2 separate regions of the Homo sapiens genome follow, and region 2 is linked to region 1. The links come from fine-mapping of genetic effects on gene expression. A gene starts in region 1. The other region holds a variant in brackets. All regions are shown on one strand. Distances are between the middles of the regions.

Evidence for each region. PIP is the estimated chance that this variant, and not a neighbour inherited with it, causes the effect.
Region 2: its variant is fine-mapped to the expression of CARINH in whole blood (TOPMed, PIP above 0.99).

The regions. Positions count from the first base shown.
Region 1 is chr5:132,403,619-132,419,708 of GRCh38, forward strand. CARINH (colitis associated IRF1 antisense regulator of intestinal homeostasis) reads left to right here and starts at 7,311. Exons shown (of 4, transcript NR_161242.1): 1 at 7,311-7,423. It also overlaps a transcript of LINC02863 not described here. RefSeq lists an enhancer at 6,660-6,709 and silencers at 6,950-7,249, 7,320-7,609, 12,012-12,200.
Region 2 is chr5:132,451,840-132,467,929 of GRCh38, forward strand. All of the region lies in intron 3 of CARINH (colitis associated IRF1 antisense regulator of intestinal homeostasis), which reads left to right. Among named protein-coding and RNA genes, the nearest start is that of IRF1, 31 kb to the right of the region's middle. RefSeq lists a silencer at 4,103-4,295 and enhancers at 4,574-5,244, 5,245-5,914, 5,842-6,071, 12,137-13,101, 12,991-13,060 and 3 more. The variant G/A (reference allele first, on the strand shown) is at 9,391.

The sequences.
Region 1 (16,090 bases):
AGAGTGAACAGGCAACCTACAGAACAGGAGAAAATTTTTGCAATCTACCCATCTGAAAAAGGGCTAATATCTAGAATCTACAAAGAACTTAAACAATTTTACAAGAAAAAAACAAACAGGGGCAAAGTATATGAACAGACACTTCTCAAAAGAAGACATTTATGCAACCAATAGACACATGAAAAAATGCTCATCATCACTGCTCATCAGAGAAATGCAATTCAAAATTACAATGAGATATCTCACGCCAGTTAGAATGGCGATTATTAAAAAGTCAGGAAACAACAGATGCTGCAGAGGATGTGGAGAAATAGGAAAGCTTTTACACTGTTGGTGGGAGTGTAAATTAGTTCAACCATTGTGGAAGACAGTGTGGCGATTCCTCAAGGATCTAGAACTAGAAATACCATTTGACCCAGCCATCCCATTACTGGGTATATACCCAAAGGATTATAAATCATGCTACTATAAAGACACATGCACACGTATGTTTATTGTGGCACTATTCACAATAGCAAAGACTTGGAAGCAACCCAGTTGTTCATCAATGATAGACTGGATTAAGAAAATGTGGCACATATACACCATGGAATACTATGCAGCCATAAAAAAGGATGAGTTCATGTCCTTTGCAGGGACATGGATAGGCTGGAAACCATCATTCTCAGCAAACTCTCACAACGACAGAAAACCAAACACCACATGGTCTCACTCATAGGTGGGAATTGAACAATGAGAACACATGGATACAGGGCAGGGAACATTACACACCAGGGCCTGTCAGGGGGTGGGAGGCTGAGGGAGGGGTAGCATTAGGAGAAATATCTAATGTAAATGACAAGTTGATGGGTGCAGCAAACCAACATGGCACATGTATACCTATGTAACAAACCTGCACATTGTATACATGTACCCTAGAACTTAAAGTACTTAAAAAAATATGCTAAAGGGCCAGGCACAGTGGCTCATGCCTGTAATCCCAGCACTTTGGGAGGCCAAGGTGGGCAGATCACCTGAGGTTTGGAGTTTGAGACCAGCCTGGTCAATATGGTGAAACTCTGCCTCTACTAAAAATACAAAAATTAGCCAGGCTGGTGGCACATGTCTGTAATCCCAGCTACTTGGGAGGCTGAGGCATGAGAATCACTGGAACTTGGGAGGCAGAGGTTGCAGTGAGCTGAGATTGTGCCACTGCACTCCAGCCTGGACAACAGAACAAGGAGACTCCATCTCAAAAAAAAAAAAAATGCTAAAGGGAGTCTTTCAGGCTAAAATGAAAGGACACTGGCCAGTAACTTGAATACTTGAATCTGCATGAAGGAATAATGAACATGGGGAGAGGTAGATACCTAAGTAAATATAAAGGGCAGTATTAATTTTTTTCCTAACCTCTCTTTTCCTACATAATTTTAAAAGACAACTGCATAAAGCAATAATTAAAAATTTAGGTTGATGGGCATACAATGTGTAAAGATGTAATTTGTGGAAATATAATATAAAGGGAGTAGAGCTGAATAAGAACAAAGTGTTTGCATATTATTGAAATTAACTTGGTATTAATCTAAACCAGGTTGTTACAAATTAATATATGAACTGTAATCTCTAGGGCAATTATTAAGAAAATAAATAAATAATATATACTTTAAAAAGATACAGATTTAGAATTATCCTAGAAAATATGGATTTAACACAAAAGAAAGCAGTAATGAAGGAATTGAGGAGCAAAAAAGATAAAAGACATAGAAAACAAATAGCAAAATGGCAGGAGTAAGCCCTTTTCAGTAATTATATTAAATGTAACTCTTCAATTAAAAGGCAGAGATTCACCAAATAGATTTTAAAATCATGATGCAACTATTATGATGTCTACAACAGTTTCAATTTAGATTCAAAGACACAAATAGGTTGAAAATTAAAAGGTTGGAAAGATCTTCCATACAAATAACCAAAAGAGAGTTTGAATGGCTGTATTAATATCAGACAAATAGATTTTAACAAGACAAAGAAGGTCATTATATTACGATAAAAGGGTCCAAACTTCACATATTTTTAATGCATTTCAACTCCTGATATGACACACTTTTAGCTCTCTATTTCTCCTTGACACTCCTGCCTCCATCCATACGTTGTCCTGCTTCATCTCTGATTATCCCAATTCTATTCATGTTCAAGGTTTACCCCATGACACCCTCTTTCTTGGAGGCACTATGGCTTTGGCTAAGTGCCCAGATCCAGAGTAGATAAAGTATATGGTCCAAAAGTAGATGTCTTCACTTACTAGCTCTATAACTTTGGGGAAGTCACTTAACTTTCCTGAGACTGTTTCCTCAACTGTAAAATTCCTTACCTATATCAGGTTTCTATAAAGATTAAATTAGATCATGCATGTAAATTATAATGTAATTATTGACTCTACAAATAATTAGTCCTTATCATATTATGCTTGGTTCCATGAGGGAAATTGTAACTACCTTTGGCGGAAAAGACAGGCTTATCCCTAAGGTGCTTAAGTAGTACACTCACTGTACATTTGGTAGTTTTAAAAAAAAAAAACTTAACAAATGCTTTTACTCATTCATCCTTGAATGAGAGACACAGCCCTCAGCAAAACATCCTTCATGAAGCCCACACCTACTTCTTTCTCTTTTTAGACCAAGCAGACTAATAGTATCTGGGCTTCCTGACAGCTTGGGAACAAAGCATGTAAACTCGCCTACTGTCAGCCTCCACACCACCATGAGATGGATATGGGCTCCCTGGGGTGTGCAGTTGGTGAGGGAAATGCTATACTTGACTATGACTGAGTGCCACGTTCAAATATTCATGTAGTACTCATGATTTGTGTTCAAGCCTCCTTCCATGGGAAGAACCAGCGGTGGACCTGAAGAGCTCTGCCTTCAAACAGATGATTCACTCAGAACAGGTTGCTGGTGACTGAACCTCAGTGACAGGGTCATCCTTTGACACCCAGCTCTCCAAGGGCACCTTGCTCAGGGAGGCTAAGCTCAGAGCAAAAGTGCCTTTTGGAGTGCTAGCTTCTTTCTACCAACAATGACAGATTTCCATCTGTGCTGCCAAACATGTAAGTTCTTTCCTTAAGGAACACTTATAAAAGATGACTTCCAGGCCGGGTGCAGTGACTCACACCTGTAATCCCAGCACTTTGGGAGGCTGAGGTGGGTGGATCACCTGAGGTCTGGAGTTCGCCACCAGCTTGGCCAACATAAGGAAACCCCGTCTCTACTAAAAATACAAAAATTAGCCAGGTGTGGTGGCGGGTGCCTGTAATCCCAGCTACTTGGGAGGCTGAGGTAGAAGAATCACTTGAACCTGGGAGGCAGAGATTGTAGTGAGCCAAGACCACACCATCACATTCCAGCCTGGGGAACAAGAGCAAAACTCCATCTCAAAAAAAAAAAAAAAGACTTCCTTTTCCCAGAAAACTAAGGGCCCCCCTACATCAAAATTATTTCCCTTTGGCTGTTCAGGAACAATTGCTCATCTCCTTTCGATTTTTTGACTTTTAACTCCTCCTCAAGGAAGTTAAGGGATGTTTTTTGCTATTGGTAGGTTGTGCTTTTCTAGAGGGAAATAGTTCTAGTATTGAGATCTAAACTGAGAATTGCTGATTATCCATGGAACAAGCATTTTAAAAACAAGACCAGACCCTAGCTCCCACAGAGGACATGGTTGATAGCTTAGTACCAAAGCACAAGCATTATCTTCTGAGTGGGAAAGCAGATATGGAGCTTCCTTGCCCACCTGACACCTAAGCCAACATGTGCAGAATTGGAGCCCTCCAAAACTTGGGCCTCTTCCAAGGTTCTCCAAGTCAATGAAGGGCATCATTGTGTCAGCTTGGGTCCTCCTAGAGCAGACACCAAGATGGAATTAAACCTGGAAGAGTTTATTGGGGAAAATGCCTATGAAGAATAAAGAGGAGCAGAAGCAAGAGTAAGCAGAGAGAGCCCCACACCGTAATGCAGGTCTGACCCCTGTGAAAGAGAAGAGGGAAGGATGGAGGAGTAGATAGGAAGAGCCTCAGACTGCAGAGCCATTCTGAGAAAGTGCTGGCCAGACTGACAGGAAGCCCCAGAGTACAGGTGGCCCATTAGAGGAGTTTTGCCTCTGGCATTCCCTCTTATAGCGTCAAATGCATCTTGTAGTATTTAGGATGGCATTCTATATTTGACCAATTATTTGATTGCTTTATTACCTCACTCAAGTGTGTTTCCCGAGGGCAGAGACCACATTTATTTTTGCTCATCACTGAATCCCCAGCATTAGCAGGGTGGCTGCATTTTGTAGTTGCCACAGAATATTTGTTGAATGAAATATCTAAAAGGGTTATTTTTTTCATTTTTATCTGAATCACACATCAGGTATTTTTTTTTCCTAACCAGTGACTCCTAAGTTAGATGCTGCTTGCACCATGCTTTCATTCCATTTATATCATTCTTCAGCTGGGTTGCGTGATCATCAGCTGTGCCCCGCCCCCCAACCCTCCATTGCCCGATTCTGTAGTAAAGTCTTTTGGGACTGGCCTTGGACTTGGACTTTTGCTTCTTTTGTGTCTTTACTGACTATCAGTGCAGGCCTGGATAAAGTTCTTGTTGCAGAACTTGCTACTGCACAAACTTTTGTTCCAGGGTTAGATCAGGAAGGATAGTAAGGAAAACAGAGCTGTCTCCAAAAGGTGGGATAGAAAGCTGTCCTTTAGAAGTTAAATTATAAATCAAGCCAATCAGAGCAAAGATACAAAATGTCTCCATAAAGAAAAATAAGGGCTGAGAGACCTTACTGAGTAATGTTACTCAGTAACGCCTTGCTCTATCTAAAAATGTCCATCTGAGGAGAGGCGGCCTGGGTACCATAATACAGAGAGCCTCATCGACACAAACAGATGGTGTCCACCAGGCCCCATCTAGGGAGAAGGGCTGGCCAGGCCAGCAGGGATGAGTGAACAGTACTTCCTATAGGTTTTGACCTGTGTTGTGGAAAGAGACATCCCACATTGCCCGAGCCTGATATCATCAAACATTTAAGTCAGACAATTCACTCTTCCGATTCTGATTTTAGGCTCACTAAGCCACCTTCTGACTATGGGGCTCCAAACTGCATGGCTACAAGAAGAGAATGTGTTCATCAGGTGGCCTCGAGTCCAGTGTTCCCGACAGTCTTGCTTCTAACAGGAATGGATAAGCTTCAGGTTTTGGGGTCAGATGGCCTTGATTCAAACCCTGCCACTAACATACATAGTAACTATGTGACCTTGGGATTTCCTTCATCTTTTTTTCTCCCAAATGAAAAATAAATAGATTATAATATACCACATGATAGTAGGGAGAAATAATGAGGTAATAATGCATGTAATGCATTTAGCATAGCACTTCTCTAGCAAATAGTGAATGAAATCAGTCAGTTGTCATTCTGACTTTATGCAACAGTGCTAATCGACTCTGGTACACTGGAAGTCAGATGAGATTTTTGGCCCCACAAAGTCAAGGACCAAACCTGGACCTTGGGAAGTTGCCAAGATGAAAAACATCAGGCCGGCCTTGACCTCCTGATGCTCTCTGTTCACATGTGTGATGTCTATAAAAGGTAACCAGGATTTGGCTTATCTGCTTACATCTCTTCCTGTCTTTTCCTGATCTTCATCTTCCCAAACATAGTTTTTATGCAGAAGCAGATTTAACTCTACTTTGCTATCTTGGAGTCAAGAATTGTCCTATAAGGAGGAAGAGGCTCCAAGGCTTGCCTTTTTTGTTTTTTCTTTTTCCTTCATACTACAGACTAAAAGTAGCATCTTCTGGACAGAGAAACAGGCTGTTGTTTTTCTAAGGTCATCATTTGGCCTGCCCCACTTTCCCACCTGCTCTTGAGGGAACTATTGCAAGGACACATACAAGCCCCTACATCAGTCACAGACCAGGGCCTCCATCTTGCAGGGAATGTGCCCAAATTACAAACAGGTAAACCAAAGTGACTCTGGGCAGATTTAATAGCTCATTTTGGTTTCTTGTTCCAGTTATAACAGACTGCTCTGTGTTTGCTCTATGGCAAAAACTTTTATGTTTGCTTTGCAACAAACGTACAGACAGGGCAAACTGTGTTTGGAGTATGGTGTCTTACCAATGTTTTCTAAAAGCAAGTGAATAGAAATGCTTGCAAAAGTATTTTCAGACCTCAGTGGCCAGCGCTGAACACCGCTGTAGGAATGTCCATCAAACGTTGTGGCCATGCTCCACTCTAACAAAAACCTGGTTCCGTGGCATAATTGTGGGGGCTAATTGTCAGGCTAAGTTTCAGACACCTTCCAAAAAAAATTGCAGGGCTTCCTCAGTCTTTAAACTCCAGATAATATTGTCCAAACTTTGACAACTAACCTGTTATCATGGAGATAGCTCCAAGTTGATGGACTGGCCATTAGAGAATGTCTATCAAGCATCCAGGTAAATGACTTGGTTGCTGCCCTCAAGGAACCCACTTAGAGGCTGTCAGAAAATTTTAAGTATTTTCTTCCTTCTATTGTTCATTCCTAAAATTCTGGCAGTAGGTATGATTATTATTATTCCCATCCCACAGGGGAAGTAATTAAGTCTAACTACTTGAATATTTTGCCCCAAATCACTGACAGTAAGAGACGGCCAGACACTGAAACCTGGAATCTCTAAATGTTTAGATATTGATGGGCACCGCTTAGACCAGGGAGTCCAAACCATAGGCTTGCTGTTCCAGTTTCTCTTATCGGATGAAGGGACCCCCATTTCACCGACGTCATTGACTTTTGGGTTCTCCGCTGACCCCAGATGAGATGCCTGGTACCTCATGGTCAAGTCCCCTCCAACGGGGACTCCTCAGAGGCTTGGTCCCAGTTGCTCAGGCTGCCATCTGCCTCCTCAGGCCAGAGCCCGAGGCGCCGCCAGCGGTCAGGTCCCGGGCCGGCTGCCAGCCACAGGCCCAAGTAAACGCTGAATGAAGGGCAGATGGAGGAACCTGTCCCGGTCGGCCGAAGCGCCGCGGGCGCCTTTCCACTTACGGCGGGCCTGCCCAGCCTCCCGCCCAGCCCGGGCCCGGGTCCCGCCGAGGCAGGTGTGCGTGGCGGACTAGCTCTCGGGCACTCGGCTGGCCCAGCTCCACCCCGAACGCCACCGGGCCAGGCCACGCGCAGACCCGAGCCCGGGGCCCCCGCCTCTGGCTGCCGGCCCGCGCCCGCCGCGCGCCCCGCGTTCACTGCGCGCTCGGCCCCGGTCCCGCCTCCCGGAGGGTTTCGCTTTCGCTTTCCTGCCGATGTCGTTGAGGAAAATGAAAGCGGTCGTGGCCAGGACTGGCGCAGCTGCCGTTTCAGGCGAGGGGCGCAGAATGCAGCGGCCGCCAGCCTGGAGCGCGGGCCCTGGGGCCGCAACCCGCGCCGGGCGAGGTAAGCACAGCCCCTTCGCGGCCGCCTCGCGGGCTCCTCCTTGCGGACCCGGCGGGCCCGACGCCAGGCGTTTGACCCGGGCAGGGTCAGGGGTTCTGCCGTGGGGGCGGGGAGGGCCTGAGAAGCGGCACCCTTGGGTTTCGTGGCTTTGAGCCTCCAGGCCAGGCTGGAAGACCTGGGAGGCCTCAGACAAGCGTGCCAAGGGGCTAGCAGCCCGGGGTCGAGCTGGAACCGTGGCAAGTCGGGCCACCTGAGCACGCCTTTCCCTTTTGTAGAGCACCGACCTCCCTGGGTGTTGGTAAAAATCAAAAGTGGGAGGGTGTACGTAAAATGCTGAACAGAATGCCTAACCTGAGCTCATAATCTACTCCCTCTGACCTGTCAGACTCATTTTTCCCACTGGGCCCCACCCCATACCTCATGTAGTTTGCTTAAGTTTCCTAGATCTGGTGCACCTGGGGGCACTTGGAGTGCCTTCCAAGTGTTCCTTGACCGAGCAAGCTGGCAGCTCATCTCCCTTGATCACGGGCATGGAGAGCAACTAGGCCAGGATGTGGCCCCCTTGCCCTGGCCCTGTCCATGTGAAGTCAGGGCCTTACTCTGCTGGGGCCCCCATCCCGGGGCTAGCATAGATGTCAGGGATAGGTGCACTCACAGACCGAGTCCTTCCCAGACCAGGAAATTTCCAGTCCACTGCATCTGCCAGCAGAAGCATGAAAGATGCGTGCCACCTTGTCTTTGCCCTTCGTCAAGTATAGCCAACTCATTCTTGGTATGCAGGAAGGGGGTTCCACCCCAGGGCTGTGGAAACAGCCCCTGCCCTTAGGGCGTTCCCATCCCCTGAAGAGAGAAAATATGTATTCAAGTTACCCATCAGGCAGGTTGTGTAGAACAAGGACAGGTGAGTGAAAGAGCTAAGAGCTGAGAGTAAAGTGACTAAATCATCAGAAACTTTACATTTAAGTTATGACAGGTTTTGCAGGCCAATACCAAGAATCCCCTTTAACTCAATTTTTGTCTCAATAATAATGAATTCAGCCTAATCACACAGATCTGATCATACGGCCCATTACTGAAACAAAACTTGAATGATCTTTACTTTGAGAAAACCATCTGAATTTGACAAAAGATGGTCTAAGTTCCTAAGTTTCAAAACATGGAGTCCGCCGCTGCCCTACCTCAGCAGGATGGTGTTGAGTACTGATTGCTTTTAGAAAATGCTGCTCTTGCCGGGCACGGTGGCTCACGCCTGTAATCCCAGCACTTCAGGAGGCCGAGGCGGGCTGATTACCTGAGGTCGGGAGTTTGAGACCAGCCTGACAAACATGGAGAAACCCCGTCTCTACTAAAAATACAAAATTAGCCAGGCATTGTGGCACATGCCTGTAATCCCAGCTACTTGGGAGGCTGAGGTAGGAGAATTGCTTGAACCCGGGAGGCGGAGGTTGCAGTGAGCCAAGATCGCGCCACTGCACTCCAGCCTCGGCAACAAGAGCTAAACTCCGTCTAAAAAAAACAAAGAAAGAAAAAAAGAAAATAGAGAAAATGCTGCTGTTTTCATGAGCCAGAAAATTAGATGCACTTCCATTCACATTCCATTGGCATGGACTAGTCTCATGGGTCTCACCTAATTGTAAGGTGGCTGGGAAATGTAGCCTGGTGGTGTTCCCAGGAGGAAAAGAACGAGAGACTGGTGAGCACTAGTAACCTCTTCCACAATCGACTAATGTGGTGAATTACTTTATCATGATGTATTTGTAATACACTTTCGTATTTGATTAGATAATATTTTATTTAGGAGTTTAACATCTATGTTTATAAGTGAAACTATCCTGTATTTTTCTTTATTTGTACAGTCCATATTTAACATTTCAAAATCAAGTAACAAATTGGGCAATGTTTTCTCTTTTTTTCTATTTTCTAAAGCAACTCCATTAAGATAGAGATTTTCTGCTCCTTGGAAGTTAGTAGGAGGCACTTGTAAAATCTTCTGGGTCTGAAACTCTATGGGGAAGAGGTTTCAAAATTATTTGAGTCTCTTAAGTGGTTATTCACATTTTTGTGCCAAATTTGGCAATTTTTATTGTCTAGAAATTATTCATTTCATCTGTATTTTCAAATGTATTATCATGTGTTTATATTATTCCTTTATAAGTTTTAAAATGTCTGTTTTATTTGTCATTTCTTCCTTTTTCTGTAATCTCATTTTTAAAAAATCTTCTGTCAGTTATTCTTGATCAGTCTCACTAGAGGTTTGTCTACTTTCAAATAAATACTTCAAGTTTTGTTAACCACCTTTTTTTTGGTCCTCTATGTCCTCTATTTTGCTGATTCTGCCCTTATGTTTATTATTCCATTTTTTCATGTTTCTTTAGTCATATGCTTTTGTAATAAATTCAAACAGTATAGACATTTGTAAAGTGAGACAGGAAAGTCCACTTCAGCCTCCATAGGCAACCACAGATATCATATTGGTGTGTTTTTCTGGACCCTTTCCTATGCTTATACAAATATTTTTCTACAACTTTCTAAACTGAAACTCATAGGTAAACTGCTCTTTATAGGCAACCACAGATATCATATTGGTGTGTTTTTCTGGACCCTTTCCTATGCTTATACAAATATATTTCTACATCTTTCTAAACTGAAACTCATGGGCCTCTTTCTGTGGTGTATACACACACATACACATACATACACACACATACACATCCATTAAAATGGAATACATACCATAATTTATCCATTTTCCATTTATGGGCATTTAGGGTGAAAGTCTTGGTCTTTTAACAATGGAATTTAATTCATTCATATTTATTTTGATCACTGATAAATGTGGTCTTATTTTTGCCATCTTGTTTTGCCATGTATTTATCATGTGTGTTTTTTTTTTCCTTGTGACTCTATGGATTCATCAAAGTGTATTTGTCCCCTGTTTCTTCTTTCCTTCTTTTTATTCAGTGAGTTGGAAGTTCTATATCTTACAATAGGCCATCATTTAGTTCTTAAGCTTAGATAAACTTGTATTTTTGTCTCTGGCAAAAATTAATCAGAACCTATAACCTCCTTCCAAACATAATAAATCTTTTTTTTTATTTTTTGTTTTTGTTTTTGTTTTTGAGATGGAGTCTCGCTCTGTCACCCAGGCTGGAGTGCAGTGGTACAATCTCAGCTCTCTGCAACCTCCACCTCCCGGGCTCAAGCACTTCACCTGTCTCAGCCTCCCGAGTAGCTGGGACTACAGGTCCCACCATGCCCAGCTAATTTTTGTATTTTTAGCAGAGACGGGGTTTCACCATGTTGGCCAGGATGGTCTCAATCTCTTGACCTAGTGATCCACCCGCCTCAGCCTCCCAAAGTGCTGGAATTACATAAGTATGTTTTCTCACGTCTCTTTTTCCTTACCTTTTCCCCACAGGCACATATACACATAGGTATCTGCCTGGGAATTATTAAAATAACCTGAACAATTCCAATTGTTATTAATTCTTCTTGCTTCAAAATACAATTTCCTTTTTCTATGTTAGAAATATTAACAATTGCATTAATCTACAATCTAACCTATTTGTGCAATTGCATATTATACCAGGATAGGAAAGTTTAAACATGTATTTCTTTTAGACTTTTCATTGAATTGCTGAAAATTCATAGTGAATTGTATCTTGAGTAATGCTTCTCTGAGTCTCTTATTTCCCAAAAGTATACTTTGGAATCCATGCAATTCTGATCGTTGTTTGACCTTTGCTGGCACAAAGGCATTCTGAAATATTTGCAAATGCTAAAGTCACTTCCTCATCTTTTACAGAGTTTACTTCAGCTTGGTGAAACCAAGTGCAGTATCAGTTTGTTGTAAGCTTACCACTAATTAAAGGTTCATAAAATAGCCCTGCCCTAGGGTCAGGGACTAGCTAGAAGAGCATGAAAATAGCCTTTGAAGATTCAGCTGCTGGATATTTTACATCAAAAAGCTGAAACGTTTTAACTATTTTAATATTTTGTTTATAGTACTTAATATTTGTGAACGTGAAGTAAAATGGACACAGTCATAGTAAAACTGTGGTAAAACTAACTTGGATGGTGTTTGGGCTGTGGTTATCAGAAGCTGCTTAAAGTGTCCATGCCTTTTATCCCAGTTCTACTTCCAGGAATATGTCCTAAGGCATGTTTTCATATGAGGTTATTTCAGGTGGCGCAGGGTAATTCTAGTTGGGACACATTTGCCACATTGTCTAACACTGACTCACAGTGAGAAAGTTATTCCCATGCTCAATTCCTTTTCAGTCTTCTGATCAACGGAAGGTGAAAAACTTTAGCTTGGTGCTAGCATACCTTTAACACCTCTCTAAGCCTCTCTAATCTCCCATTTTATATAAAAGAATGGGCAAAGGGGTAGCAGTATTTTGACTATATTTTAACCACAGTGTTTTTTTATTCCAATAAAACCTATTATGATTGCCTTCATTTATGGCATATGATGTTGGTTTTCCACTTAAATAAGGTTTGTTTGTTTGTTTGTTTGTTTTTTGAGACAGAGTCTTGTCCTGTTGTCCAGGCTAGAGTGCAGTGGCATGATCTTGGCTCACTGCAACTTCTGCTTCATAGGTTCAAGCGATTCTTGTGCCTCAGCCTCTTGAGTAGCTGGGACTACAGGCACGCACCACCACACCCGGCTGATTTTTTGTATTTTTAGTACAGACGGGGTTTCGCCATGTTGCCCAGGCTGGTCTTGAACTCTTGAGCTCAGGCAATCCGCCTGCCTTGTTTTCCCAAAGTGCTAGGATTACAGGTGTGAGCCACTACACCGAGTCAGGTTTGCTTTTAAAATACATTTGTTTAAGGACAGAAATGAGTTGATGTAAAGAGAAATGTTAAGTACATTACAGATGGTAATTAATTATAGCAAAATAGTAATGGCAATGCATGGATGTAGGAAATAGGACCCTAAGGAAATAATCAGAGCTATAGACATAGATTTATATCTAGGGATATTCCCGTAGATGAGGAGGTTCCTCCCAATGACTTATGTTACCATAAAGTTAGAAACTACTCAGTTGTTCAGCAATTAGGGATTGGTTAAGTGATTTTCCTACTTTCATATGATGGAATACTAGCATTATGAAAAACTGTATTTAATACATGGAGGATTATATACTGTTATATAAAACTGGTTATAAAAGTATATACAGTATTGTAATTTTGTTAAAAATGAAGTATGAGTGTGTGTGTGTGTGTGTGTGTGTGTGTGCGCGCGCCTGTGCCGAAATCAATGGGGAAAAAAGACTGGAAGAAAATATTTCCAAATGGGTTATCTCTGGATCATTGGACTACAGGAGTTGTTTGTGTTTTCCAGTAATAGACATGTCACTTTTGTCACCAGAAAAATATATCTATTTTTAAATTAACATGCTCCTACACTGACAGGACTACCTGGTATTTTGTCATCTGCAGGCATTCCTGGGTCCTTTCATGTTCTTACAATTCAGTTAGGTCCCTGTGGCCTGCTGCAACATCATGGGGAAATAGTACGGTTAAGACGTCATTGTCATCTCTCAGTACAGTCCAAGGTACTTGGTTTTGGAGTGTGCATATTTATATTTTTGGAGTAGAATGGGAGAATGTTTCTAAAATTCTCTCGAATAATTTTTATTGCTTTTTCTTCTTGACAGCTCCATTAAACAGGACCAAATTAGGATCCCATTTTTTAAGTAGGTCTGGATTATTAAGCAAGAATAGAGTAGACGCTGAGTCTCCTAGTTTCTTGTTTAGTCTTTCTTTAATTTCTGCATTTTCTGCTGACCATGAAGTTTTTAGATGTTAGATTTAATCATGGTTCTGTATCACCTGTGTTGGAGATGTGTATATTTAAATCTGGACACCTCTCTTCCAGAATTACAAAATCTCTGTTCACGGAAAAAAAAAAAAAAAGTTCGCTGCAAGGCTTAATGCTTGGCAGAAATAATTGCTACCTTTTGCCTAGTAAAAATTCCCCACGTGTTCTTTCTTAGGGCTTGTTCCTGGAGACTCTTGAACTTTTTTGTGGGAATGGGGTTGGCAGGTTAAGTGAGTAAATGGTGCATCTGCCTGGGAGTGGTCTACAGCCCTGGTGTGAGCTTCCTCCTTCTGTAAAGCTGCTGGGCTGTAGCCAGGGTGAGCCAGCCAGGGCCTGAGCCTGAAAGAGGCCTGTTGTGGCATTCCAGTAACATCTGCCAGATTGCAGCGAGACCTTTGACTGGTCAGCTCTTCCCCTGCTGGGGTCCTTCAACTGCACCACTCCTCTCCATCCCCACGGCCACCACTGTGGTGCAAGCTCTCACACCTCTTGCCTGGACCACAGCAGTGACCTCTAGCTGGTCCCTGCCTCGCCTCGCCCTTACGTCCAGTCTGGTTTTTTACAGGAGCTAGTATGTCCTATTCTCCTATTGCTGCTGTAACAAATTACCACAAAATCAGTGCCTTAAAACAACACAAATTTACTCTTTTAGAAGTCCTGAAATTAAGGCTTTGGCAGGGCTGCGTTCCTTCTGGAGGCTCTAGAGGAGAATCGTTTTGTTGCTTTTTCCAGCTTCTAGAGGCCACTGCATTCCCTGGCTCAGGGCCCCTTCCTCCTCTTCGAAGCCAAGTCTTTCTCGTGCCACATCATTCTGAGGCTCCTCATCTGAAGTCAGATCTCCCCCTGCCTCCCTCTTATAAGGACACTTGTGATTATGTTGGGCCCACCTGGATAATCTCCGGTTCTCAGGACCCTTAACTCGATCACATTTGCAATGTCCCTTATGCCATATAGGGGAACATACACACAACCTCCAGGGATTCACACATAGACATCTTTGGCAGGGCCATTACTCAGCCTACATAGATAATCTTTTAAAAGTACACATCTAAATGCATTAATCCTCTGCCTAAGACCCTTGTGTGGTGCTCCAGTTCTCCAGGGTTAAGGCTCGAACTCCTCTTGTGGCTGGGAGTGTCATGCAAGGGTCACCTACACTGCTTCTCCAGCTTCACCCTGCCTCCTGTCCCTGCCAACTACCCATGATCCAGCCTGTGCACAGGGTGTGCTTTTGACAGGGACACTGCTTGATATGGTTTGGATGCATGTCTCTTCCAAATCTCATGTTGAAATGTGATCGCCAGCATTGGAGGTGGGGCCTGGTGGGAGGTGTTTGGGTCATGGGGCTGGATCCCTCATGAATGGTTTGGTGCCCTCCCCGAGGTAATGAGTGAGTTCTTACTCTGTTCAGGCGAGAGCTGGTTGTTTAAAGGAGGCTTGGCACCTCCTCCCCTTTCTTGCTCCTTCTTGTGCCATGTGACATGCCAGCTCCCCCTTTACCTTTCACCATGATTGTGAGCATCCTGAGGCCTGACCAGAAGCCAAGCAGATGCTGGTGCCACACTTGTACAGTCTACAGAACTGTGAGCCAAACCTCTTTTCTTTTCTTTTTCTTTTTTTGAGACGGATTCTCGCTCTGTCACCCAGGCTGGAGTGCGGTGGCACGATCTTGGCTCACTGCAACCTCAGCCTCTCCAGTTCAAGCAATTCTTCTGCCTCAGCCTCCCAAGTAGCTGGGATTACAGGCGTGCACCACCACACCCAGCTAATTTTTGTGTTTTTAGTAGCGACAGGGTTTCACCATGTTGGCCAGGTTGGTCCCGAACTCCTGACCTCAGATGATCCACCTGCCTCAGCCTCCCAAAGTACTGGGATTACAGGTGTGAGCCACTGCACCCCGCCTTAAACCTCTTTTCTTTATAAATTACCCAGCCTCAGATATTCCTTTATAGCAATGCAAAATGGACTAACACATTGCTCCTCCCCACACTCCATTTCAGGCCTCCCCTTAGACAAGGTCAGGCCTCCTTGAGATGCTCTCACAAGGACTACATGCAATTCTGCTATCACACCTATCACAGATTAACATCTTTGCATTTATTTAGGTGATTATTTGACTAATAATAGATGTTCCTCTTATGTAAGTACTCCATACAGGCAGAGACCATGTCTATTTCTTACCCACAATTTTATCTGGCATAGTGCCTGGCATGCAGCTGTGGGCAAGAAATGACATGGTTAGTAAGTCCTTGGAAATAAGTGAATAAATGAATGGGTATTAACAGCATTGTCATTGTGCTCTATCTCTTTTTCCCTGCTTTTTCTTCTGCATGGCATTTGTCTCCTTTTCTACTGTTGCCTCCCCGCACTGGAACAGAAGCTTCGTGAGAACAGGGACTTTGTCTTGTGTGTTCGCTCCTCTCTTCCCAGGTCCTAGAACAGTGTCTCGTCCATAACAAACACTCAATGAATATTTAGGGAATGAATGTCTGCAAGATGCTGAGAATCTCTCATAGAGTTTTCATATGTGACCCCTCTTTGAAATTGGGTATTATCAAGTTATTCATTTTAATGATTCAACCTAATTCAGTAATCAGGCAAATTGGCAGAGACCTAAAATATTTACCCGTTGTTGTGAGGATGAAATAAGTAAACAAGTGTAAGTTATTTAGAGCAGTGTCTGGTAACCACAGCCCTGTGTAAGAGTTTGCTGCTGTTGTTAAGAAATGCTTGACTTCTTGATATCTTAGAGTTTTTGCTGACTCTGCTGCCTGTGTTGGGATCCCAAGCAGAAACTGTTTGTGGCCCAGCAGGTGTTGGCACTGGGTGAGTGCTTC
Region 2 (16,090 bases), 48 kb after region 1:
CACCTAAGGGCTGCCATGCCTGGCTCTCATCCCCACCCTCACCCCACCAACTGCCTTAGTGGCCAGTGACATCAGGAGGAACCCTTCCATGCTGATGGTGCTTGTGCCCACCTATGCCAGTTCATTGAGCATTCTTAGAGAGGCATGACTCTTCTACATAAGCGAATTTTCCAAATTATTAAATTTGATCCCATCACATTGCAGTTTTAAAATTGTACCCTTTTAAATTAATTTCTATTCTATCAAATTTATCAAAATAATGCACAAATTCAAAATAGCTGGAAGAGATGATTTTGAATGTTGTCACCACAAAGAAATGACAAGTGTTTAAGGTGATAGATATGCTAATTACCCTGATTTGATCATGTCATGCTATATGTATGTCTGGAAACATCACACTGCACTGCATAAATATCTACAATTATTATGTATCCATTAAAAACAAAATAAAAAATAATGCATGCATATGGTTTAAATATCAGTTGTACTGAGAAGCCCATAATAAAAATCCCTTCCCCGCCTTTCTCACTCCCCCTCTCTATAGGCTGCCTCTTTCAACCATTTACTAGTTTCCATTTCTGTTTATACTATTTTTTGATCTACCGATTTTAGGCATTTGTTGACTTCTTGTGATAGATGAGGATTGAACTTTCCTACAGAACCATCCCCACTTTTCCTCTCTCCATCCTTCCAATAGGAACATAACACAATCTGTGGTTAACTCAATAGTGAATGTGGACATATTCGTCACTGCTGAGTTATGTAGCATCTTTGAGTCCTGGAAGATTTTCTTGTATTATTTATTTAATAATTTTCTTCCCTGTATTTTATCTGTTGGATCATCTGGATTAATGTTTTAGTTTCCTTATATTTTCTCTCCTACTTTTCATCTCTTTGCCTTTTTGGTCTACTTTCTTGGGAAACCTTCATTGACTTCATACTCCAACCCTTCTGTTGATTTTTTTTTTAATTTTGGCTTTCTTTTTCTAATATCCTAGTACTCATTCTTGTTCTTCCTGTTCTTTTTCAAAAATACCACATTCTTTTTTATGCATATACTATCTCCATCCTATTCTTCTTGAGGCACTATTTATTTTTCATTTGTCCATTTGTCTTAATAGTCTTCTAGTCTCTATTTTGTTTTTGTTTCTACCTGGAGGTGGCAGCGGCGGTGGTGGCTGCTTCTTGTTGTTGTTGTTGTTGTCGTTGTCGTCATCCTCCTTCTTCTTCTTCTTCTTCCTCCTCCTCTTCCTCTTGTTCTTCTTCTTCTTCCCTCTTCTTTCTTCCTTCTTCCTTTTTCCTTCTGCTTTCTTTTTCTTCTCCCTCTCTCTGTCTCTCCATCTCTCCTTGTTGGAGGCTTTCCTTAAATGCCAAATATCTCAGCTATCTGTTGGTATTTATTAATGGAGCAATAAAAGGCTGAACTAAACTCTGCTTGGGGAGAATTTATCAACTGGGGTTTCACTACAGGAAGCAAGACAGTCTTTTAGTTAACAAGCCTCCAATGAGCACCTTTTCTCTAGAGCTAGGTTTCTTAACCTTGGTACTAGTGACATGTTGGGCCAAAGAATTCCTTGTTGTCAGAGGCTGTCTCATGCATTGTAGAATGTTTAGCAGCACCAGTGACTTCTGCCTACTAAATGCCAGTAGTAACCCCCCTCCCAGAGTTGTGATAACCAAAATGTCTGTAAACATTGCCAAATGTCCCCTGGGGGACAAAATCACCCTGTTGAGAACCACCACCCTGAAGCCATTCAGCTCCTCAAGAGAAGCATTCTAACTCCTAGTTCTAGTTATTGAACGCTACATAACAAACCACCTCAAAACTTAGTAGCATAAAACAACAACCATTTTTTGGGCCACTGTCAAGGAGTCAGAAGGGCAATTCTCTGCTCTACGACGGCTAGGATGACTGGAATGACTCGAGGTGACTGGAATAACTGGGAGTTGGAACAGCTGGGGCTGAAGGGTCCACTTGTAAGATCGTTGTTCACTTGGCAAAGAGAGCTGGAAGGCTGGGCTCAGCTGGGACTGTTGACCAGAGAGACTACACATGATGTCTCCAGCACCATGGCCTGGTCATTGGACCTCTTACGAGGCACCTCAAGTCTCTGGTGTGAGTGTTCTGGCCAGCAAGACAGAAGCTGCATGGCTGTGTATGTCCCAGCCTTGGAAGTCACATAGCTCATTTCCACTGTAGTCAGAAATCCACACAGGTTCAAGGAAGGAGACACAGACCCACCTCTCCATTGGAGAAATGTCAAAGAATTTGCAACCATCTTTTAAATTCACCATACCCTCATCCAGAGTGATATATACCTGGGGTGGGGCAGGGCAAGGTAAGTGGGTGGGACATTGAGTCCCACGCTTCATTCTTCAGACTTTTCCCTCACCTCCCTGTTTTCATCCCTGTATTCATCTGCCCTCCCTCCTGCCTGTCTCTCTCCTGTTCAGTGTCTTTGTCTCCAGCTGTGTGGGGCAGGGTGTGGAGGTGAGACCTGGGGAGGATTTCAACCAGTTTCCTCCATTCATTACCCCCACAGGCTGCTGTACCTCAGCCCCACCAGCCACAACACCTGGACTCCCCAAGTCTGAGCTCCTCCTGCAGGGTTCCAGGGGTAAAGTGGCTTGCCTCCTGTCAGTGTGCCCCTCTGCAAGCCCTTCAGAGCCTAGCTTCCTCCATGTCAGTCATTATTCCTCCACCTGCCTCCCAGCTTCCTGTAGTTTGGGGAACTCTTTCAGCCACTCATGTCTCCTTTACCATTCTCTTTGCCTTTGAGAGTTAATACCATTTGGTTGGTTGGTTGTTTGAGACAGAGTCTCGCCTTGTCACCCAAGCTGGAGTGCAGTGGCACAATCTTGGCTCATTGCAACCTCTGCCTCCTGGGTTCAAGCAATTCTCATATCTCAGCCTCCCGAGTACCTGGGACTACAGGCATGTGCCACCATGCCTGACTACTTTTCGTATTTTTAGTAGAGTCGGGGTTTCACCATGTTGGCCAAGCTGGTCTCGAACTTCTGATCTCAAGTAATCCACCCTCCTCATCCTCCTAAAGTGCTGGGATTACAGGCATGAGCCACCGCGCCTGGCCCCATTTGATTTTTTTAAGAGACAGGGTATCACTTCATCGCCCAGACTGGAGTACAGTGGTGTGACCATAGCTCACTGCAGCCTCAAACTCCTGGGCTCAAGTGATCCTCCCACCTCAGCCTCCTGAGTAGCTGAGACTCCAGGTACACACCACCACACCCAGCCAATTTTTTTTTTAAGACAGGGTCTTGCTATGTTGCCCAGGCTGGTCTTGAACTTCTGGACTCTAATGATCCTCCTGCCTTGGCCTACCAAAGTGCTGGAATTATAGGCGTGAGCCACTGCACCTGGCCCCATTTGATTTCTAGACTAGCATTTTAGTGGTGCTTCAGGAGAGAAAGGAAACTAGGAGTGTAAATAACTGATGTGTTGAACTGGAAACCCTGTTGTACCTCTCTTGTATGGATCTATCTCTACATTGTGTTATAGTCTTCCCTGCCCTGTAACAGCTCTGTGAAGCAGTACAGTGACATTTAACCTTCTGTTGATCATTCAGAGTCCTCCTTATGAAAATACTTGTTTACCTTGGAATTATTAAGCTATTAAGCTATTACCTTGGAATTATTAAGTAAAGCTATTTGTTCTTCCATAATGAGGACCCCAGTCATTTTGCTGGGATTCTTTAAACCTTTCTTCGTGGCCGCCTCTGTCCCTGGCTGCCTTTCATCCTATGTATTTGTGGTGAGAGTGCCACATTACAGCACGTTAGCTTCTGATGTACTCTTTTCAAATGGCCAGCCCCGGTGACTCTGCCGGGCATTGTTTGTTTGCCACCCCCCCACACATCCCTGCTCCAGTTGATTTTCTGCTCTTTCCCACTCCTCCCAGGATTTGACCTTTGTGGATTCCATCAGCCAGGCTCCAGGTCCCCAAGCTTCCAGTTGGGTTTGGCCAATTGAAGACCCCTCCCCTGACCAGAGGTTGGAGGCTGGGAGGGGAAATGGGAGGTGCTTTATCCCCCCAGCTCCCTCCCTTGCCAGGTCTCAGGTCAATAGTGCCTGTGTTTTTCACCCTAAAACCACAGCTCCTGCCGGCAGTCCCCTCCTACTGGTCTCTCTGGGTTCCAGGAGCCCTCCCACCTCCTCCCTGGGGATTGGTGGTCACAGCTCCCACTGTTGCTGGCTGCAGGATGCTTCACCTTTCCTTGAGGGTTTCTCTTCATCTTGCTCACCCTTGGAAACGGTCCTTTCCTCAGTCTCTCCTGTTACCAGTGGAGTGTGCATCTGTTTCCTGCTGGGACTGTGATCAATACAGCAACCTTTTCTGATTTGCATCTAAAACAAGGATACTCAAGCAGAGAGGGTATCAACATTTAAAAAAATAAAACAAGAATAAATAGTCCCTGAGTGAGCCCTGAGAGACTCTCTTAGGCGAGAGTCTGGGTGTGAGCTTTGTGACTTCTCTAGGCTACGCAAGGGCTTTTGTTTGTTCATGTCGATGTTTTTAACTATAATGCAGATAATAGAGGGCAATAGATTAGTGACTTCTGTACTTACTGGAGTGATTTGAGAAGGAAAATAAGCATGTAAATCAAGGGAAGCCAGGATCACTCACTCTCCTGGTCCCAGTCAGCCCTCGTTTTTGTTTAATTTGTGTATTTCGAAGCACACATATCTCTAGGGAAGAAAATGAAATCAAGAACTCCTCCTGGCCACCGGTTTCCTGAAGCATGAAAAGGAAGCATTTCATAAATGCTTTGTAAAGAAGACAACAGGAAGGGGTAGTGTCACTGGCTGGCAAGAGCTGCTGTTGTGGTATTTCACAGACAAGGGAGGTGACGTGGCACATGGGGGCTGAGGTCCCAGCCAGAGGCCACACAGGCACAGGCCTCAGAGCCCAGGCCTCCCTCTGGCCTGTAGACCCTCAGCCCTACTGGACAGGAGGAAAAGGCCTAGGGGACATTGCCCCCATTTCACAGAGAGGAGGCTGAAGCCAGTGAAGCAGAGAGTTGCAGCTTCAGTGGGGAGACACTGTTATGCCCCGCCTGTCTTATTCATGCTTCTTTTACCTGTAGGGATTTTTTTTTACATGGCTACCCTTGAGTGATAGAGCCTTCATCAGCTTAGCTTGTCCTCTTGCAGCCTACGCCACTCTGTGCCCTTTAGCCAAGGAAGCCCAGCTGAGGCCCCGCAGCGTCCCTGCCCAGCAGAGCTACAGGAGGCCCGAGGCCCCTTCCTGTTCACTCTTGCTCTATAGACGCCACGCTGCAAAGCAGATGTGCAGGGACACCACCTGAAGACCCAGCCTGCAGCTCAGCCCTACACACTGTGGATGGTGGAGATCCCAGAGGGCCAAGAGAAGCTTATTGAGACTTCTCTGCACTGCCCCTCCCACAGCAGGAGGTTCATGGCCCATGCATTTCTGGGAGGGTTGACAGGGCCCAGGTTGTGGAATACCTGTCTGTGAGCCCCATGTCCTGTCTTGTCCCAGCTGCCTGTAGTTTGACAGAGTATGCTAGAGGTCAGCCATTGCTAGGGAGGCTGCCACTAACCACACAGAGAGGAAGGAAAATTCTCAGCCACAGCACTTAGAGCTGAGCCTGACATGGTCCTCAGCAAGATGTTGCAAGTTCCTAATCTGAACACAGAGGCCAGGGAGTAAGCATCATCTGGAGCCCAGAGCTGACTGTCATTACCCACAAACATAAACACCCTGAGTCTGGCCTTCTCCCCACCCTGCCGAGGTTGTCAGAGCCTCAGCACTGGCTCTGCCCTGGGTGGCAGCCCCTGGGAAGCCCAGCTGCCACCTCTCTACAAATGGCCCTGTAGAAGCTGTGCTCAGTGATCCACTTCCTGGGGGGGGCTGGGCCCACCTTGTTGCCATTACACCCCATTACAAACTGATGCAACCAGCTTTCAACAGACACTGCCAAGGAAGATACACATTACAACAGCATGCTGCAATACCTCTGCCTGTGCAAGAGACTGACCCACATCCAAAAAATGGACATCTTCCCACCCCAGTGTCTCACTCCACTGAGCTGGAAGTGGCCTTTGTCAGGACCCTGTGAGGTCTTGAGTGGATCTGCTTTTCCCAAGATATTAAACCAGTGACTTTAAATCCTGGCTGCATATTACCATCATCTGGGATATTAAAAAATACTGATGCCTGGATCTTGCTCCCACCCAAAGAGTCTGACTGAATTGATGGGGTTTTCAAACATTTTTTAAGTGTTTGTTGAAGGATGACATACATGCAAAAAAAAAAAAAAAAGCACAAACCATAAGTGTAAAGCTCAGTGAATTTTCACAAAATGAATTTACCCCGAGTAACCAGCATCCAAATCATGAAACAGAACATCACCAGCAACCCCTGGTACCCCTTCCACTTACTACCTGGCTCCAAAGGCTAATGTCCATTCTGGCTTCTAATGGTGTACAGTCATTTCTCCTGTTTTCAAACTTTATATGATGTAAATGGAATCAGGCAGTATATATCCTCTTGTTGTGTTTGTGAGATGATTCATCCAAGTTGTTACTTAGAGCTGCAGTTTATTCACTCTTCTTGCTATAGAGTATTCCACTCTATGGATATTCCTCGATTTATCCATTCTACTGTGATGCATTTTTGGATATTCGAGTTGTTATTTATAATTCGGAACTATTCTGACTATTGCAATGACATGCTAGTGTGTATTTTTGGAGTACATGTATATCCATTGCTGGGGAAGCATGGGTATGAGTATGTTCAGCTTTAGTACCTTATGCCAAATAATGTTCCCAGGTGGCTGTACCCATTTACACTCCCTCCAGCAATGTATGAGAGTTCTGGTTGCTTCACATTTTTGCCAACCATAGATATTTTCTATCTTTTTCATGTTAGCCATTCTGGCAGGTATGTAGTGGTATCACAGTGTGGTTTGAATTTGCATTTCCCTGATGACTAATACAGCTGAGCAACCTTTCATATGTTTGTTAGCCATTTAGATCTTCTCTTTGCAAAGTGCCTGTTGGAATATTTGGACATGAGTATTTTTAAAAAGCTCCTTAGGTAACTCTACTGTGTAGCCAAGGTGGAAAACCACTGAACTAAAACCACAAATTAGTATCTGCGTCTCCCTTTCTTCATGATTTGCCTTTGAACTTAGAGCATTTTGGATCTGAGAGGACCTCGTGGAACTGGGAAAAGATTATATTCACTCCCTACTAAGATGAGCCTGTCAGGAAGAAGCAATTGGAGCTGGCAGTTAAGAATCTTTAGGAATGTGACCTCTACTTCAGAAGGGTCCAGGGAGGGCCTGTGGTGTCCACAGCTGCCACAGACATTTCCTAACCACAAAAATGGCCCCTTGGTGGTCTCCCCAGAGCTCCAGGCAGTCATGGGGAGGAAGCGGAGGGCCCCATGCCAGGTACTTCCCAGTTTCTAGGCCAACATGAATGGGACACAGCTCATATGGGGTTGTGGTTAGACTGGGGACAGTGGAGCATATGTTCTGGGGACCTGGGTGTGGCCAAGGGAGGCCTCCTGTCTGTGGCCTTTGTCCCAGATTGGAAATCAGCCAGTGGGGCTCTCCTACATGGGTCCAGGCCTGGCTAGCTCTTGAATTCTGTGCGTTTGCATGTGGGTCCTTATGCATGCGTCCTAGAGCAGGGTCCCAGGGGGCCACTCCCCCCCCCGACCCCTTACTCCTCTAAGCTGGGAAACACGTGGCATGAGAGAACACACTGTGGCTTCTAATGACATCGTGTCTTGATTGCATCCCCATTGCATCATCTGGGCTCATCTCATCCCCACCTCTGGACTGTAACATCATCCCAGGGACTGCCGGACACTCATCTGTGCTCCCCCACAGAGAGTATAATGCCATTTGGTAATTCAGTACAGCCTCTTCCAACTTGAGAAAGAAGATGCATTTCCTTCCCTCAGTCTTGAGCTGTGCAGGTGTCACGCTGAGCTGCCCTGTGTGGGCTCCATGTTGGCACACATCGGTTGCAAGGGGCTCTGTGTAGTGAGTCTGGAGTTGGACCACTGGCCAGGCGCTGGGATGCTAGTGCCTGGACTGAGTGTGCACAGAGGCCCCTCAGGCAGAGCCACAGTGGGCGCTGAACCTCCTGGTGAAGTTCACCGCAGTAACTAGAGCTCAGTGGGAGGGGCTGGCCTATCAGCACCTGTCCTGTGTGCTTTTTGAAAAGAGCAGGGTCTACCTTCTGTCAACTGAAGTCCTGCCAGCTGCATGGCATGAGATGAGGGACAAAGTGGCACGTGAACAAAGTTGACATTTTGGAGGCTGTTAGGCTCAGAGCCAACCCTGGGCTCCATGTAGTGCCATGACTCATGGATTCAGGCCCATCTTGGAAATTGCTCTGGGCGTAGAGCTCTCATTTCTGATAGTCCAAGTGCAGATATTGGGGTTCCTCTAATTGGCCCAAATGGTGGCCTGCACCAACCAGCGACCAGAGTGCTGTCTGAATCTAGAATAACAGGAAGAACACGCCTCCAGCAGTGTAGGAGAGTTCCCCATGCAGTGTGCTTCCCATTCTTACCAGCAGTTGGTATCTTCTGTCTTTTTCACACTGGCCATCTGAGTCTCATAAGGAGACTCCTCTCCTTCCACTGAGCCTGCATCCCAGCCTCTCCCCTTTCTTCAGGGACCTCTCCCCAGCAATTACGCCCTTCCATTCTCTCAACCAGGGAATCTTCAAACTCTTCTTCTCCACTGGCTCCTGCTGTGCTCCTGTCTCCATCACCTGTATAATGCTTCCTGCCATCCTGCCTTCCCCGTGGAGTACAGCCATGCTGTCTGCTGCTTACAGCCAAGATTCTGGAAAGAAATGTCTCCTTTTTCCTCGTCATCAACCACTCATTTATTCAGCAAGTGTTTCTTTTACACTTGCCTGTGCTGGGCATGGCAGCAATGCAGCAGTGAACAAAACCATCAGCCCTGCTCTCATGCAGCTTATAATCAAGTAGAGAGACAGACATAAATGATTAATAGATGCTCCTGTAATGGTGGTTGTGAGGTGTGCTGCCACAGCCCAGCCACACACGCCAGTTCCCTTCTCTGCACATGTACATGTCTGCTCATCCTTCCCACCTGAACTCATGTGCCACCTCACTTATGCCCCTTCCCAATGCCGCACCCACACAACAGGGTGTCCCTCTGTGCCCACAGCAGCCCTTGGGTATAACTGTTCCCCACAGAGGCTGAACCCCAAGGGCAGAGTCCAGGCCACACTCACCACGGAGACCCCTGCCTGGCACAGAGCCCAGCCCAGCAGAGATGCTCAGAAGATGAATGAAAGTCCCTGCTGAGATTGATCCAATCTGTTTGTGAACATCTCTGGGGTCCAAGAATTCAC[G/A]GCTTTCTTTTTCTTTAGAGAGCCTTTTGTTTCTTTTTGCCATTATATACTATATTTGGGTTAGGGCACAACAATGTGAATATACTTAATACTGAACTCTACACTTGAAAATGGTTAAGATGGTAAAGTTTTAAGTTATATGTATTTTGCCACAATTTTTTAAAATGCAGAGCATAGGTACAAAGAAGGAAAAAAAGGGGGCAAGGTCCATTTTATTGAGAAATAAAGAACAAAGGGTTCAATTCAGAGAGGATTGGATTTTAAAACGTAATTTAGATTAGGGAAATGCAAATGAAAACCATAATAAGTAAGATACCACTTCACATCTGTTAGGATGGCTATTTTAAAACAACAAAAACAACCTGAAAATAAGTGTTGGCAAGGATGTGAAGAAATAGATACCCTTGTGCATTGCTATTGGGAACGTAAAATCATGCAGCCTTTGTTGAAAACAATGTGGTGGTTCCTCAAAAACTTAGTTATCATATGATCCCGCAGTTCCACTTCTAGGAATATACCCAAAAGAATTGAAAGCAGGGACTCAAAGTGATATTTGTACACCAGTGTTTGTAGCAGTATTATTCACAATAGCCAAAAGGTGGAAACAACCCAGATGTCCATGACAAGAGGAGTGGATAAACAAAATATGGTGAATATGTACAATGGAACATAATTCAGCTTTAAAAAGGAATGAAATTCTGGTACATGTTATAACATAGATGAACCTTAAAAACATTATGCTAAGTGAAATAAGCCAGACACAGAAGGAAAAATACCAGATGATCCCACTTATATGAGGTACCTAGAATAGTGAAATTCATAGAGACAGAAAGTAGAAGGATGGTTGCCAGGGGCTGGAAGGAGGAAGAACAGGGAGATACTGCTTAGTGGATGCAGAGTTTATGTTGAGGGTGATGAAAAAGTTCTGGAGATGGATGGTGGTGATGGCTGCACAACAGTGAGAATGTACTTCATACTATGGAACTCTGCACTTAAAAATGGTTAAAATGGATGTAGACATTTTATGTCTATTTTGCCATAACAAGAAAGTAATTTGGGTGTATTTTAGAGATTTTAGAAAATACTGTAAGCACAAGAGGAAAAAAATTAAAATCATTCGCAATCACCAGGTAGAGACAACGACTGTTGAAAGATCAGTGTGTATCTTTTCATTCTCGTTCTCTCTCTCAAAAAAGTGTGTGTGTGTGTGTGTGTGTGTCTTCAGATGTCACACTGGACTTTCAGGAAAGGTTCCCCTCTCTGCTGCTTCCCTGCTGGAGCCATGGAGAGCAAGTCTATCCCTGTTCCATAGGTCAATCCTTTGAATGATTTCTCATGGCTGAGTTCACTCCCCTGCACCTCCAGGGTTGCACTTCTCTGAAAATACTCATTTATTTTATGTGTCTACTAAAAACATGGCACCCACGACCCAATAATATGTTGGAAGGGGTTGGAGAGAGAAACGCGAGTACCTCTCACACCTTCTCACACACTACACATCTTAGCGATGGCCGAGTGAGCATGTTGGCTCTCTGGACTCCTCAGTCTGTTGGTCTGGGCTGCGCCAGGCTCAGGCTCCCTGCCTCCCCCCCAACCTTGATCCCCTTGCTTCTTGAACCTGATGCTGGGCCTCACATTCTCCGTTGATTCTAGCTCTTAAATCCTGCTTCTCCAGCTTGTCAGGAGGCTGTGCCCTCACACCCCAAAGAGCAGATCTGCCCTCTCCACTGAGAGGGAAGGAGTGAAGGTCCCACAGCCTCTGACCCCTGCTGGGCCCAAGAGAGGAACAGCTGCTTGCTTTATTTCTCGTGGGAGAAGTGTGTCTCCTCTTTGTCTCAGGCACCCCTCTGCCCTGTACAGCAGCAAGTCAGCAGGAATGAGCTGAGCCGCCCAAGTAGTGGCTCCCTCCACTATGGGGGCTCTGTGGTCCTGGGGGCTGTCCTGCCTCCACTGCCATAGGCCTGGCCCCAGAGCATGCTGCAGTGGTCACAACCTGTGGAGGTGCCCCCAGACCCCCATATTTGGGCCCAACTACAGCCTCCTTCCCCAGCTTTGCCACCTGGCTTGGGAGCCAGGGCACCACCAGCTTCACTGGCAGGGAGAGATGAAGAAAGAGGCCATAGCCACGCAAGTGACTGAAGTTCATGTTCGTGCACACCAATTAGAGAGGGACAGCACGTTCATTTACCTCCAAATCCAGCCACAGACACATCGCCCTTTTCTCTTGGCTCTGAGGCCTCCACAGAAGGGTTTTTTAAGGTTGCAGCCAGGACCTTTATAGCCTAGTCCTGAGAAGATTATCTTTTTATTGCAACTTTGATTAATGATTGATCAAAAACTGATACTAGAAACACTGAAGAACAAATTTGCTGTAGACATTAGGAAAGGTCTACATCTGGCAGGCCTGGAGACCTGCCCACCCTCTCCCCCCACGGTCAAACCAGGGCAAAGGTACATTGGAAGACCCAACCCCTACACACTCTTACACGTGCACTCGCACACACACACTGAGGGGAAAGAAATATTTAATTGTCCTTAAATCCTCTTGGATTAGGCTATAAATTGCAAATAAATGGAGCAACAGACAGAGCAAAAGCACATAAGGTCCTTTAATAGAATTTCTCTATCTTATTCTGTTTCTATGAATGCCTGTTACAAATTAGCAGCTTAAAGGGAAACCTGGAGTGTGGGAAAGAGCGACCCTTGTGTGAAGTCCACAGCCGGGGTTTCCTACAGACCTCAGGTCCCAGAGAACATCTAAGATGCCTCCAACACCAGATGGAGGAGGGCAGGAGATGCTGCACAGAGAAGCAGCACTTCCCGAGCATCTGTGGCAGGAAGTGACTTGGAGAGGATGAGGCCGTGCCTCAGGTGTGCTCTAGCTGTTCTGATGGTCTCTGAGGCCACGACTGCCATGGTGAGGTCCACAGCCTGCATCAGAATCACCAAAGGGCCCAAACGTACGGCCTCAGAGCCTGGAGAGCCAGGAATCGGCATTGCAACAACTCCCTGCTCAGTGGGTTCTACCAGTCCAGTACCTGCCCTCTGAGGGTGCCCAGGGAGCAGGGTGCTTGCTGGCTGGAACACTTTTTCCTGCCCCTCAGCTCCTCTGTGATGCCCTGAGGCACGGGCACTGGAAAGCTGGCAGAGCTGCTTCTAAATTGAAACTGGAAAATGAAACTGGAAATCACAGTTTCATTTTCCAGTTTCACTCGCTCCCCCTACTGTTGGGGTTTCTTTTCCACAAGGAGAGTCCCCCAGGGAGAAAGAAGCAGGAGTGGGAGTGGGGGAGCATGTTGGGGGAAGGCAGTGAGGGTGTCCTGTCTGCAGCAGGGCATGGAGGGGCCCCAGCGCTGCACTTGCTTCCTTTAAGCCTGGCCTGCTTGCTGTCAGCCCCGGGGGTGGTTTCCTCTCTAGGAAAAGCTAATGTCATGCTTATGCTGAAAAACTCTTTTCAGAGGTACTTTAGGAGGGGCCTGGCTCTCGATTAATCTGGGCCATTTCATACCGGCTGTGCTCACCCAGGCACAAACACTGAAAGCAACAGCTGGCAAAGCCATCGCTTGGTAGCAGCTTGGAAGACACCACCAAAGAAGCTCTCATGGAAGCGGCAGATTTCCTGAAGCGACTGGAATGCGGGGAAGGAGGGCAGTCGGGGAGAGCCGAGAACCAGCCCCCCTGCCAACTCCACCCCATTCCTCTCCTCACCTGAAATGTCTCATCCTTAGAACAGCTGCCCTAACCCCCTAATCCCACACACTCCTTTGTAGGTTAAGACCCCTGAAGTTGCACCCTCTCGTAGGAGCTATGTTTTTCAGAGATCCATGTGATTATTTGCCTAATGTCTGCCTCCCTCAGGGAAGTAAAGTCTGTGACGCGTGGACCTGGTCTGTGTTGTTCACTGTGCATCCACAGTGCCTGGGTAGTGCCTGGCATGCAGGAAGTACACACAAAAAATATGTGTTCATGAGTGAGGGCAGGCTTGAAGAGCCCAAGAGAAGGACAGTGCTCCAGGGAGGCGTCTGCATCAGGCTCCCCAGTGTCTGGACTGCATCCCAGCCCCTCCGAGCAACTTCAGGGGAGGATTCTGTGAACAGATGCCCCAGCTCTTCCGCCCACAGCTCCTACCCCCAGCCTGAGGAATGCTTTGACTGTCCCCAGTGTGTGCAGGCAGTGGGGAGGTGATAGGGGGAGGTGTCCCACATGGCACACTCTCCCTAGCCCTTGCTTTGCCTCCGTTACCTACATAGATGGGCTTCACAGCCTCTTCCAGATAGGCAGGGCACTGAGCTCTGTGGGCCACACCTAAAAAGAAAGGGAGACAAGCTGGCGGTGGGGGCATGACAGTGTTTTTGTTTGTTTGTTTGTTTTTTGAGATGGAGTTTCACTCTTGTTGCCCAGGCTGGAGTGCAATGGCGTGATCTCGGCTCATCGCAACCTCTGCCTCCTGGGTTCAAGTAATTCTCCTGCCTCAGCCTCCCGAGTAGCTGGGATTGCAGGCATGCACCATCACACCCAGCCAATTTTTGTGTTTTTAGTAGAGACGGGGTTTCTCCATGTTGCTCAGGCTAGTCTCGAACTCCCAACCTCAGGTGATCCACCCACCTCAGCCTCCCAAAGTGCTGGGATTACAGGCATGAGCCACCGTGCCGGGCTGACAGTGGTTTTTAAAGGGGGAGGGCAGATGAAGGACGTTGGTGGACCATCCTCTGGGAGGAGATGTGGACTGAGGAAGCAACGCTGACCTCAGGCCCCACACCACCCTTTCACCTCAGCCTCACTTTCTCATCAGTAAATGGAACTCGTTCTTGTGTATGTGCCATGGAGGCAATGTAGCAGAAGAGAATAGGGCAGACTTTGGAACTCAGCCATCTGGGAGAAAATCCTAGTTATGTGATGACCTTGAGCCAATGACTGAATTTCTCTGTCTCATTTTCTCTTCTGTAAAATGGGGACAATTACAGTGAATTCTGTGAATTCATTCATGTCCCTGACACATGGTGTGAGCTCAGTCATTACCTTTGCGAGGGTTGCAAGGATGTAATGAGATGGCAGATGTGAGCACAGCTCCCAGACCCGAAGGTGCTGTATGAATGGGAGGGAGCAGTGAGTGTTATTTGGGAAATATTGAAGACACAACTTCCCTCCCACATTTGTCTGGGGTGGAGCAACAGTTTTACTTATTTAATGATAAGCTGGAAGATGCACCAAAGGGAGGTGAAAAACTGAAACCGCCAACCGTTTGAGCTCCAGGCTGCACCGAAGCGGTGTGGCTGGTGCAGATGGTGAGAGCCCCAGTGCCGGCCCACTTCCTCCATGAGTGCCACACGCCTTTCTCAAGCTAGCCGGCTTCCCAAGGCTGCAGGAAGTGGGGCCAGGAACAGGCCCTCCGGCTGTGTTGGGGGAGGCCTGGGCAGGGGTTGGCAGCTGCTGGGTGTGAACGGAAGTCTTGGAGGTCCTTGAAGGTCCTGGGGCCGCCTGCACAGCAGCCCCTGCCCTCTCCCTGTCCAGGCCTGCCCAGGACTAGCTTGTAGCAGACTCTTCTTGTAGCCTAGGCTCTTGCCTCTTGCAGTAGTGAGCCATTGTACAAAAGACATCCAGCGGAGGGAGGCAGGCTGGAGAGGAGGACAGCCGAATCTTTTCTCAAAGGAAATGCAGTTGTGGTTTTGAGACGTTCATATTTCACATCTGTGGTTGGCGTTTCCCAGGGTTCTCAGAGGTGAATGCAGGGTCAGCCCTGTGTCACCAAATAAGGCTCACAGTGACCTTAGCAACAAGCTTTGCTGCCCATTGGCTGTCACTGCTGCCGCCTGCCAATGCGGCCTCCTGAAGGCCAGCACTGATGCTGAGCTGAAACTTCTGCATGTGCCAAGGTCCAGCTGCCTCTGTCAGAAATCACCGTCCTTGGAAGCAGCCACAGATAGGTAGAGAGCTCCGGACAAAGGTGGACAAGGTCAGTGGGAGGACTGTCCAGGTGTCCATGTTTCAGAGTCCACCTGGCCAGCATTCCATTCTCACATAGCACCAAACCAGCACCTTGGTGGCCTGGTCCCAGCTTGCCAGGACAACCCCCCATTCCACCCTGTCAACCTTGAACTCTATAATGGTCATCATTTCATAGCTCTGCTCATTTTAGTTCCACTGGGTTCTCCCTTGTGCTTGGCACTTGACTAAGCTCCTTCTACACATTACATCTTTTACCTCTCTCAACAACCCTGTGAGCCAATTAGCCCCATTTTACAGGTGCAGAAACTGACACCAAAGGAAGTCAGTAATGGCCCAGGTGACTGCACCACTAGTAAGTGGGGAAGTCAGAATTTAAACCCAATTTAAACAGACCTAGATCCCATGCTATTAACCATTGCACTGTATTGACAGACACTCAATGTCCGTGCAGCTCAGTGTCTTCATTCTGTGACATGGGGATGACAGTACCGTACCTCACAGGGTTGGGGTGAGCATTGTGTGGAGTGACTTATGTCCAGAAGCACACCTTTGCACCAGTGGCCTTGGCACCCCCAAGGCATGCTCCACAAACAGCTTGCACATTCCTTTCTCACAGCGTGTGCTGCTGAAACATTGAGGTTTGTGGACCGGACTTCTCTGTAGCCCTTGTATTTAGTTTTCACTTCCTCTTTCTTGACCTCCTCCCACCCCCCACCCAACTGCAAGGTAGGGAGGCTACTGAGGGGCCAGCCTG